2 linked regions of the Homo sapiens genome follow. The protein of the gene in region 1 interacts with the protein of each later gene in a pairwise test. Each region holds a gene or a part of one and is shown on either strand. Other genes may lie near its edges.

What was found. Proteins that work in one complex are often made in the same cells at the same time.
Region 2: the proteins of CHERP (region 1) and SAXO1 interact in binary tests that used the Homo sapiens proteins (3 or more experiments, as listed by UniProt).

What each region holds. Positions count from the first base shown.
Region 1 is NC_000019.10:16,539,428-16,546,774, reverse strand, and holds the start of CHERP (calcium homeostasis endoplasmic reticulum protein), read left to right. Parts: upstream 1-4,337; 5' UTR 4,338-4,396; coding exon 4,397-4,421; intron 4,422-4,731; coding exon 4,732-4,905; intron 4,906-7,347. UniProt on the Homo sapiens protein: Involved in calcium homeostasis, growth and proliferation.
Region 2 is NC_000009.12:18,927,133-18,932,231, forward strand, and holds the end of SAXO1 (stabilizer of axonemal microtubules 1), read right to left. Parts: intron 1,924-5,099; coding exon 920-1,923; 3' UTR 518-919; downstream 1-517. UniProt on the Homo sapiens protein: May play a role in the regulation of cilium length. Stabilizes microtubules at low temperature.

The DNA of each region.
Region 1 (7,347 bases):
AAAAAAAAAAAATGACAATACAGATTCATTAACCTGTTCTGATTGAGGAGCCTATTAAGAATCCTGTAAACGCTGTGTATCTTCAACCCTCAAAAAGGCATTTATTTTGCTACCAATTTTGTTCATGGTTCTCTGAAATCTATCCATTGGAGATCCCAAGTTAAAACTCCTTGATGTAGCCGGGCACGGTGGCTCACACCTGTAATCCCAGCACTTTGGGAGGCCGAGGCAGGTGGATCACCTGAGGTCAGGAGTTTTAGACCAGCCTGGCCAACATGGTGAAACCATCTCTACTAAAAATACAAAAATTAGCTGGGGGTAGGCCGGGCGCAGTGGCTCACGCCTGTAATCCCAGCACTTTGGGAGGCCGAGGTGGGCGGATCACGAGGTCAGGAGATTGAGACCATCCTGGCTAACACGGTGAAACCCCGTCTCTACTAAAAATACAAAAAATTAGCCGGGCGCGGTGGCGGGTGCCTGTAGTCCCAGCTACTCGGGAGGCTGAGGCAGGAGAATGGTGTGAACCCGGGAGGTGGAGCTTGCAGTGAGCAGAGACTGCACCACTGGACTCCGGTCTGGGCAACAGAGTGAGACTCCTCAGAAAAAAAAAAAAATTAGCTGGGTGTGGTGTGCACCTGTAGTCCCAGCTACTCGGGAGGCTGAGGCAGAATTGCTTGAACCCCAGAGGCAGAAGTTGCAGTGAGCAGAGATCACACCACTGCACTCCAGCCTGGGTGACAGAGCAAGACTCTGTCTCAAAAAAAAAAAAAACAAAAAAAACAAAAAAAACTTCTTCATGTAGATTTTACCTGGCATGAAAAGTGCCCACACTCTGGATTACTGACTGTTCTTCAAATAGTATGGGCTGGGCACGGTGGCTCATGCCTGTAATCCCTGCACTTTAGGAAGCCAGGGCAGGCAAATCAGTTGAGGTCAGGAGTTCAAGACCAGCCTGGCCAACATGGTGAAACCCCGTTTTTACTAAAAATACAAAGATTAGCTGGGTGTGATGGCAGGCGCCTGTAATCCCATCTACTTAGGAGGCTGAGGCAGGAGAATCACTTGAGTGTGGGAGGCGGAAGGTGCAGTGAGCCGAGATTGAACCACAGCACTCTAGGCTGGGCAACAGACAGGACTCCGTCTCAAAAAAATATATAAAAAATTTAGGGCCAGGCACGGTGGCTCATGCCTGTAATCCCAGCACTTTGGGAAGCTGAGGCGGGTGGATCACCTGAGGTTGGGAGTTTGAGGCCAGTCTGACCAACAGGCAGAAACCCCATCTCTACTAAAAATAAAAAACTAGCCGGGTGTGGTGTCGCATGCCTGTAATCCCAGCTACTCGAGAGGCTGAAGCAGGAGAATTGCTTGAACCCGGGAGGCGGAGGCTGTGGTGAGCCGCGATCACGCCATTGCACTCCAGCCTGGGCAACAAGAGTGAAACTCCATCTCAAAAAAAATAAAAAATAAAAAATATTTTTTAAATAAACAGTATGATCCCACACTGTTCTCTCTGCCTGTTTAGGGTGTTTAGAGCTGGCCCCTTGTTCAGATCATAGTGCAGACCTCACCTCGAGAGCCTTTCCTGACAACCCTATCAGCCTGGGCCTCACCCTCCCTTGTATCATAGTCTCAGCATCCTCTTCTTAATAACACCTTTGAGATGATATATTTGTTTACTGATTTTGGGACTCTTCCCCGCCATAGACTGAGTCCCCTGAGAGCAGAGCTGAGATCTGAGTTGTGCATGACCGTATCTATAAACCACATCCAACTGGCCGCCTGTTTTTGTGAGCCAGGAAGGTTTTTCAAAGGTGAACATGTACCATCAATTGACGACAGGAAATACAACTGGGAGCCCCAATTAAGTGAAATGTTATCCCCCAAAAGAATTCCACTCTTATGAATAGACTTGGGTCTTAGTCCATTTTGCATCGCTATAAAAGAACACCTGAGACTGGGCAATTTTTAAAGAAGAGAAATTTATTTCTTACAGTTCTGGAGGCTGAGATATCCAAAATCAAGGGCCTTCTTGCTGGTGGGGACTCTGCAGAGTCTTGAGGTAGCACAGGGCATCACATGGCTAGCAGGCTGTGTGCAAGCTCAGGTCTCTCTTCCTTTTTTTTTTGAAACGGAGTCCTGCTCTGTTGCCCAGGCTGGAGTGCAGTGGCACGACTTTGGCTCACTGTAACCTCCACCTCAACCTTTGCCTTCTGGGTCCAAGTGATTCTCGTGCCTCAGCCTCCCAAGTAGATGGGATTACAGGCATCCGCCACCATGCCCGGCTAATTTTTGTATTTTTAGTAGAGATGGGATTTCTCCATGTTGGCCAGGCTGGTCTCGAACTCCTGACCTCAGGTGATCTGCGTGCCTTGGCCTCCCAAGGTGCTGGAATTACAGGCATGAGCCACTGAGCCTGGCCTTTCTTCCTCTTTTTATTTTATTTTATTTATTTTATTTATTTTTTTTTTTTGAGATGGAGTCTCACTCTGTCGCCCAGGCTGGAGTGCAGTGGTGCAATCTCAGCTCACTGCAAGCTCCAAACCAGTCCCACTCCCATGATAACCTATTTATCCATTAACACATGAATGGCACGACCTCATAACCCAATCACCTCTTAAAGGCTCCACCTCTTAATACTGTTTCACTGGGGATTAGGAACAAACATTCAAACTGTAGCAACTTGTATTTAAGAAACTACTCAGTTATCATATTTTGATTTTCACCAACAAAAATTTTATGAACTTTTCTTTCTGGTTATAGAAATACCTAAATAAGGCTGGGTAGGGTGGCTCACACCTGTAATCCCAGCAGTCTGGGAGGCCAAGGCAGGCAGATCATGTGAGGTCAGGAGTTCAAGACCAGCATGGCCAACCTGGTGAAACCCCATCTCTACTAAAAATGCAAAAATTAGCCGGGCGTGGTGGTGCGCACCTGTAGTCCCAGCTCCCCTGGAGGCTGAGGCAGGAGAATTGCTTGAGCACGGGAGGCAGAGGTTGCAGTGAACCGAGATCACACCACTGCACTCCAGCTTGGGCGAGAGAGAGCAAGACTGTGTCTCAAAAAAAAAAAAAAACCAAACAATTAAGATCCTCGATCTTCATGAGAAAATATGAACTAGAGGACATTTAGAAAAAAAAAAATCCTTGATCTTGCCTCCTGACCTGCAGAGTCTAAAATATTTGCTTTCTGTCCCTTTTATACAAAAAGTTTTGTTGATTCCTAGCCTACAGCAACACTTGATGTAGAGTTGTCAATCCATAAGCATCTGGTGGAAAAATGCTGTTAACAATAAAAATGAAACTAATCTAAAATACATGTGCATTTATTTGCACAGAAAAAAACAGGCTGGGTAAAGTAGCTCATGCCTATAATCCTAGCACTTTGGGAGGCCGAGGCGGGAGGATTACTTGAGCACAGGAGTTCAGGGCTAGTGAGCTATGATCATGACACTGCACTCCAGCGTGGGCCACAGAGCAAGACCTTGTCTCAAGAAAAAAGAAAAAAAAAAACGGATAAAGGAAAAAAAAGCGGCGGGGGCGGGGGGCAGGTATAGCCAACTAAGCATTAACCATCTCAAGAGGATCAGTTTATATCGGACGTCCACAGCAGAAATTTGCTGCTTCTGGCTATCTTTTCCCCACAATTAGCAAGGGTTAGCTTCATTATTTTAGAGGCAACCCAACTGCAGCTTTTAGAAAGGCGCTGTGCCCTCTAGGCCAGCAATTTGAGGGCATGGGTTGGGGGGTACCCCGCCCCAGTCTTCCTGACCAAAGAGTGGAGCGGAAGAAAGCCAGGAGGAGGATGTTTTGAACCTAAATACGTCCAGCTGCAATCCCAGTCAAGCTCGTCGCCCCCAGTTCTGCTCCACCTCCGGTCTGGCCGGGGAGAATGTGACAGTCGCCGCAGCCCGGGATCCACCCGGACGCACCTCACCTCGCAGTCTCCTCACTGTGCCCGCGAAAGGAAAGAGACCCTGGCCCAGGCACGAAGTCCCCAGGCCCCTGGTCGCCCGGAGGTAGCAACCAGCCAGCCCATCGGGCTGCGACGCCGACCAAGGGGCACGCCCCGCGCCCCCCGGTCTCGACTAACACCCACCCGCGCCGTTCCAGCCTTTCCGCGGCGCCGCGCGACGGGGACCCACTCTGCGAAAGTGTCAGGAAACTTCTGCGCGTGCGCGTCGCTAGCCCCTCCCGCGCGCCAGGCATCGCGCGGCTTCTTCCCGCCTGCCTCCCGCTCTCACTTCCGGAGTTTCCCAGCGACGGCCGTAAGTGGCGGGCGGAAGCGGCCCTAGAAGCCCGCCGTAAACGGCTCCCTCGCGCCACTTCCGGCCGGCTTCCGCAGACGGCGCTGGTGGTCGATCGTGTGGCGCCGGAGGACGTTCCCCGCGGCCGGAGCCATGGAGATGCCGCTGCCCCCCGATGGTGAGACCCAAACCGGCCGAGAGACCGTTTCTCTCTCCCCGGAACCTCCTATTGGCCGGCCCCGCCTCCCGGAGTCCCCGGGTCTGGGAGGGGGCGGGGCTCGGCCTCGCGGCTTCGCCTGCGGCCTCTCCCGTGGGTCCCCGCATTCCCGGCGAGCGTGTGGCCCCTATCGGGACCCGTACAAGGGCGGCCTCTTCGGGGCCCACCCCCTTGGGGTCCCCGGCAAGGCGGACGGGGGCTGGGGCGCCGAGTCCCCCGGCTTTGGGCGGTCCTCGCTGACGCCCCGCGTGGCCTTTTCTCCGTCCTCCAGACCAGGAGCTTCGAAATGTCATCGACAAGCTCGCCCAGTTCGTGGCTCGCAATGGGCCCGAGTTTGAGAAGATGACTATGGAGAAGCAGAAGGACAACCCCAAATTCTCGTTTCTTTTCGGAGGCGAATTCTACAGTTACTACAAGTGCAAGCTGGCGCTGGAGCAGCAGCAGCGTGAGTCCCCTCCGGCACTCAGGCCGTCCCATCGAGCGCTTCCTTTCTCGGATTCCAGTCCGGGCTCTGCCACAAACCTCTTTCTTTCGGGTCGTTTATTCTTTGAAGTGGAGCAGCTCGGTCCACACGATCCCTGTTCCGCTGTTCCCACGGCCCTGCACAGAGCGGCTGCTGGGTGCCACTGTAATGGAGAACAACGAGGTTTTCGATCCTCCCCCCTGGGCTCTGGATCAGGGATTTTGCTGTTGTTTTGCAGACTGATGACGGAGATTAGCAGGAGTAGCGTGATTGTTTTAGTGTTTTCTAGGGAGGAAGTGATAGAGGCCGGATGGGAGTCCATGGGACAGGCACTGTCCAGCCCCCTTTGCCGTCTCCCTGTGGGTCCAGCAAGGTTTTGTGCATTTCAGATGCCTGCAGCAGAAATCAAAAAGAATTATCCCTCTGAGTTTTAGTTATTGGCAAGTGTTTATCAATGTTCGTTCATTTAGGCAACAGGATTCCAGTCCTGCTCTAAAGAAGTTTAAAGTTAGGAAGCAGAGCTGGCCTTTGAATAATGGATAGTCACCAGGTGGTGCGGCTGCTCAGGGCAGGTATCACATCTGTCACGTTCAGTACCCAACCCCGTCTCTAGATTGTTTAAATGAATAACTAGGAGTTTGCCAGGTAGATGGACATTGAGAGGTGGTTGTCCGCTGTTTGATCGAACGCCAATTGTGTGTTATGTATTAAGGTACAATGACCCAAACAAGGTCTGTTTGGCTTCGGCGAGCGTGTAGTTCAGGGGACTACACGCTCGTCTTGTATTAAGGTACAAGGTCATTGTCCCTTAATACATAACACACAGTTGGTGTTCGATTAAACAGCTTGAAAGGAGGCCTGTTGCAGTGGCTCATACTGTAATCACAGCACTTTGGGAGTCCAAGGCGGGCAGATCACTTGAGGTTAGGAGTCTGAGACCAGCCTGGCCAACATAGTGAAACCCTGTTTCTACGAAAAATACAAAAATTAGCCGGGTGTGGTGGCCCGCGCCTGTAGTCCCAGCTACTTGGGAGGCTGAGGCGGGAGAATCGCTTGAACCCGGGAGGTGGAGGTTGCGGTAAGCCAAGACCACGCCATTGCACTGCAGTCTGAGTGACAGAGTAAGACTCCATCTCAAAAAAAAAAAAGAAAGAAAGAAAAAGAAAAGGCTTGAAAGGAGGCCAGGCGTAGTGGCTGACGCCTGTAATCCCAGCACTTTGGGAGGCTGAAGCGGGCAGATCACTTGAGGTTAGGAGTCTGAGAACAGCCTGGCTAACATAGTGAAACCCTATCTCTACTAAAATTACAAAACTTAGTCAGGTGTGGTGGCACACACCTGTAGTCCCAGCTACTGGAGAGGCTGAGGCAGAAGAATCGCTTGAACCTGGGAGCTGGAGGTTGCATTGAGCCGAGACCACACCATTGCGCTCCAGCCTGGGTGACAGAATGAGACTCCATCTAAAAAAAAAAAGCAGCTTGAAAGGAGGCCAGGCCCAGTGGCTTGTGCCTGTAATCCCAGCACTTTAGGAGGCTGAGTCAGGCGGATCACTTGAGGTCAGGAGTTCGAGACCAGCCTGGCCAACATGGTGAAACCCCATCTCTACTAAAAATACAAAAAAAATTAGCCAGGCATGGTGGTGGGCACCTGTAGTCCCAGCTACCCGGGAGGCTGAGGCAGGAGAATCGCTTGAACCTGGGAGGTGGAGGTTGCAGTGAGCCAAGATCGTGCCACTGCACTCTAGCCTGGGAGACAGCGAAACTCCATCTAACAACAACAACAACAAAAACTTGAAAGGCTGAGAGAGTAGAACATTGCAAAGGGGCAGTTTCTTGAACAAGAAACAGAGAGAGAGTTTATGTGTGTATTGCCAGGCACAGTGGCACACACCGTACCCCCAGCTACTCAAGAGGCTGAGGCTGGAGGGTTGCTTGAGCCCGGGAGTTCAGGGCTGTAGTGCGCTGTGTCGATTGAGTGTGTGCAGTAAGTTCAGTGTCAGTATGGTGACCCCCTGGGAGCTGGGGACCACTCGACTGTCTAAGGGGTGGTGAACTGGCCCAGGTCAGAAATGGAGCAGGTCGAAACTCCTGTGCCGATCAGTAGTGGCCTCACGCCTGTAAATAGCCACTGCACTCCAGCCTGGGTGACATAGTAGAGAATCTATTTAATAAAAGAATGTGCTTGTATGAGGGAAGAGTTTGACCTGGAGTGTTAACTGCCAGGGGAAAAGTTTGGGTTTTTTCACTCAATCCAGGGGTTTTTCTGATGCCTATTTAGGTTTGAGATGCGGGGGTGGGGTGGAGAGAGATCAGCTGCCTGAAATCGTAAGCAAAATATTGTATGTGCTTATGTGTTTCTAGAGCGATCCTTCCTTAGCCCCAGCACACCAAGTTTAAAACCGTTGCTAGGCCGGGCGCGGTGGCTCA
Region 2 (5,099 bases), on another chromosome or scaffold:
ATGTTAAACTTTGTCACAGGTCTGGTCACAGCTGTCATTTTAGGACAAGCACATCCAGGCTCTCCAGAAACCAGGCCAGCCTGGGGAAATTTCTTCCAGGCTCTGAGCATTTAGAAGAGCCCACAGCTTTTGCTCACAGCTCAAGGACCAGGCGTCGACTGCCTGGTTGCCAAGGGTGCTTTTTCTCCCTCCTCTCCCTGGAATCATAGCCTGTACCAGCTTGGGGTTGGGGAGAGGTCTGGTAGGTTCATGCATCACTGCCTCCCTCTTTCTTTCCCTCCATCACCTGTGACTAAAGAGATCCACACCCCATCGAACAGCACTATTCTTGCTGGTATGTCATGCAGTGAAGAGGTAGAAGGATGCTTTGTGAAGCAGCCCTGCACAGAGAGAACCCAAAACAAGACTCCAGACCAGGCCCAAGGCACCTCCACCAATACTGATACACAATGGGGGTGCTAGTATAAAATCTCCCAAAGGTCCCAAGCAATACGGACTACTCTCTGCATAGCCAGCCTACAGATTCATTCCCCCCAAAATAAAATTTATTCTTTGGCGCTTCATACTTGGCAAGGGTTAATCATTATGTCAGTTCATACAATGATTAAATTAATAAAATACATCTGGATCAGAGAAACCCTCACAGACCAACTTTGATTCCATAAGCACAAAGTAAAGGACCTGAAACGGGGTGGGGATGCAGTAAAGGAGAAGGTAAGGGGAGTTAATTAGCCGGTGATTAAATGTCATTTTCCCTGAGTCAAGTGATTCTCATTTTATTCAAGTGCTCTGGAAGTGGTGAAGGTTTTTTGTTTTTTGTTTTTTGTCATTTTAGGGAATTCTTTTTTGTCCAACAAATAATTCTCAGTTGTCTGCTTTTAAAAGTACTGTGTAATTTCTAAATTACTATTTTTCAAAATCAGGCTAACACTTCCAACTCCCTCTGGTTGGGGTTTTCTGAATCATCTACAGAAAGATGGCTGCTCTGCTGAGAGCCTGCCTGGGAAACTGGTTTGTATATCCTGTGACCCAAAGCATCCACTTCCTCAAAGGTGTAGCCAGGAGGCTCAGGATATGAAGCTAGGCACCTGCCCATTTCCTTGGGAGTAAAGCTGATGGTGTAGGTGGTCTGGCTTTCCACAGGGACATTTCCTCGAGGGCCAGACCAATGAGGCTTACAGCTTTTGGTATTGATAGGCAGGTGGGGCACATAGTGGGCCCGAGTGGTGGTCAGGCAGTCCAGGGGCTCGGTGGGCAAGTCCAGCTGGGGAACGGGCTTGACTGGCTCTGTGCGCATGCTGGACCACTGCTTGTAGTCATCCTTGGTGGTGGAAGAGCCTTCAAAGCGACCGCACTTCTTAATCTGAAGTGCAGGTCGGCAGGACTGAGCTGGGGCACCCTTAGGGCATGTGTAATGGGCCTGCACTGTTGTCAGAAGATCCATCCTGTCTTCGGGAGGGACGTAGGTGATGGGAGCTTTGGAGAACATCCGGGGCATTGGCCAAGCTTGGTACTTATCTCGAAACTCAGTGGTGTTACAGAAAGGCATGTCTAGCCCAGGAGGCCTGGCTAGAGGTTTCAAGCTCTTGGCAGGCTCCCCCATCAGGCCCCGGTAGGATTGTTTTTGAGTGGTAAGGCTTTCAAAGGGGATTTCACAGGGCCTGAACTTCTCTGCTTCATGCACAAAGCGCTTCTCCACGGGGTGGGCCACATAGCTCATCTTGTAGTTAGTCACATCCTCCAAGGGGATGTTACAGAGCTTTGGCATGGCCAGAGGTTTACAGCTTATGGTCTTCACAAGGCCTTTTATGGGGTAATCGTCCTGGTGTGTGGTTCTGTTATCAAACCTGACTGATGCCGGCTGGTATTTGTGTTCCAGACGAAGTGGCTCTCGCCTTGGTTGGTTCCAAGGCAAATAATCAGCTGAAATTAAAGCAGAAGAGGTAATTAATAATAAATCAAGTCAACCAACTTGCATATATTCTACAGAGCCCCAAGGTCTTAAGGCAGTCTCCGATGAAGTGTTCTTTGAGACAAAGAAAGAACAGAGCACATCCCTGCTACCACTTCATTCAAACACCTGATGTGTCAACTTTATGGTACTTGCAGGCAGAAGAGACAAATCTACAGGAGCTCTCATCACACCCCACAATACTGCATGCAGGGATCTTAGAGGGTCCATGGTCGTGAGAGGATCCAGGGAATCCATTCCTGCAGAAAAGTTCAACCACTAGCTTACTCTGACAACACTTCCTTTCTTCTGTGGAGAAGGTACTTTCTCTGAATCAGCATGGAAGGAGTGAGAAGATGCATGTGATGTAGTGAGATAGAAAATTCACAACCCACCACTGGTGGGCCACCAGCCAGATGAACCAGGCCTACCTGGTCGTCTGTGGAGTGACAGCCCACTGTGTCCCTGTAATCCTCACATGTAATCCACATAAATCAAATATGCTGCTCCAAGGGAATAGGGCATTGTATTGGGTGGTGAGAGAACAGTGGCTGCCACTTATATAAAACTTATTACATAACAGGCAGTATTCTAAGTGCTGTATATATTAACTCACTTAATCTTCAGACTGTCCTAATAAGGTGGGTACTATTAATGCCAGTTTTATAGATGCAGAAACAGATATACAGAAAATGAGGGAATTTGTCCCAGCTCACTTGGCTAGAAGTGGAAAAGCACAAATGCAAATTCAGACCCAGAGCCCACGATCTGACCCACTCTACTCTCTGGTTCTAACAGTTAGGGAATACCAACTACATGTCGGTCAATTGTGCTCAAGTCTTTCCATACATGATCTTGTTTCATCTTCACAATAACCCTTTGTGATGGGTATGATTCTCTCCATTCTACAGATTTCTAAATACAAGGCTCAGAGGAGCTAAGAAACTTGCCCAAAAGTCACATGGCTAGTGAGGTGAGTTGGAATTTAAACCGTATTGTTGTCTCCAAAGCCATGTTCTTCTGATACCTCATATCACACTTAGGGGCATTTTATTTCCAGATGGAGTAAAGGTTAAAGAAAAAAATAATCAGAGGGAAGATTTTCAGGAGGAAAAGAACTTCAGAATGTTTGAAGAATGAGAAGAACTGGCCAATCTAGATGTCCATCTCCAGAGGAACCTCTGCTGTGGGGCTGGAATGGCCAACATAATGGGAGGCCTGGACCCCAAGGAAATCTGCAGTAGAGATGGCCTCCATGCATCTTGAGGACCAGATACTGTCTTCAGGCAGCACTGTAAGCCTTTGAAACTGGCTTTGCCACACAGACCATCAGGGCCAGCACACCAAGACTGAAAGTCTAGGTGAGAAAAATGGGATGACAAACCATGTGATTCAACTGCCTTGGCACTGCTGGAACTTTTTTTTTTTTATTTGAGATGGAGTTTCACTCTTGTTGCCCAGGCTGGAGTGCAATGGCACAATCTCAGCTCACCGCAACCTCCACCTCCCAGGTTCAAGCGATTCTCCTGCCTCAGCCTCCCTAGTAGCTGGGATTACAGGCATGTGCCACCGCACCCGGCTAATTTTGTATTTTTAGTAGAGACGGTGTTTCTCCGTGTTGGTCAGGCTGGTCTCGAACTCCCGACCTCAGGTAATCCGCCCACCTCGGCCTCCCAAAGTGCTGGGATCACAGGCGTGAGCCACCACGCCCGGCCTACTGCTGGCATTCTTTCAAAATACTTGACTAACATCCAAGACCTAGGTTGCCCCATCAGGCCCATAAATTACCAGATTTAAATTAGCCCTAGTGAGCCCTCTGAATCTATAGGGAATTCTCTTGCTTACTGCTGTACGAAAGGTTAGAAAAAAAAGCTGCTTCCCAGGAGCCTTGGGTATACACACCAACACTAGTGGAGTCCGCAGGCACAATTTGTAACAGTTTTATTGAAATCTAATTTGCATAATAAAAGGTACCATCTGAAGTACACAATTTAGTGACTTTTATGGAGTTGTATATCCATCACCAAAATCAAGTTATAGAGTATTTGCATCATGCCAAAAATACCAATTATCTTCATTTGTAGTCAGTCTTTACTCCCATCTCCAGCCCCAGGCAACCATTAATTTGCTCTTGGTCTCTATAACTGCGCATTTTTTGGACATTTCATATAAATAGAATCACCCAATATGTAGCGTTTTGCATCTGGCTTCTTTCACTTAGTGTAATGTAATTGAGGTTCATCCATAATGTAGCCTGTATCAGTAGTTCACCTTTTTATTGTTGAATAATATTATATGATACCAAATTTTGTTTATCATTCACCAATTGATGGACATTTTGAGTTGTTTCTACTCCTTGGCTATTATAAAGAAATTCTGCTATGAGCCTTTGTGAAGAAGTCTGTGTGTGAACATATATTTTCATTTCTCTTGGGTAGATAATAAAGTGAAATTGCTAGGTTGTATAGAAAAATCTATCTTTAGCTTTTTAAAAAAGATACTGCCAAATGTTCTCAAAGTGGAGAAGTAGATGTGCCATTTTACATCCCACCAGCAACGTATAAACATTCTCATTTCTCCACATCCTTGTCAATATTTGTTATCATCTGTGTTTTTAAATTATTATAGACATTCCAATGGGTATTTAGTAGTATCTTGCAGTGTCATTTACATTTCTCTAATGACTAATGATGTTGAGTATCTCTGCATGCACTTATCCGCTCTTCATGTGCTTTCATTGGTAAAATATTGAGATGTTTTGCCCATTTTAAAATTAGATTGTCTTCTTATTGAGTTATAGAATTCTTTGCATGTTCTAAATACAAATCTTACACCAGGTATGTGATTTACAAATTTTTTTCCAAGTCTATCACTTCTCTTTTCATTTTCTTATTATTTTAACAAAACACCCACCTGACACCTGACTCTTTTCATTTCTTAATGGTGTCTTTCTAAGTGCCCAAAGGTTTTGAATTGCGATAAAGTCCTATTTATATCTTTAATAAATCATGCTTTTGATGCCATGTCTAAATTCTTTGCCTGTCCCAAGATATCATAGATTTTTCTCCCATGTTTTATTTTGAAACATTTATAGTTTTAGCTATTACATTTAGGTTTCTGACTCTTTTGAGTTTGGATGCGGTAACTT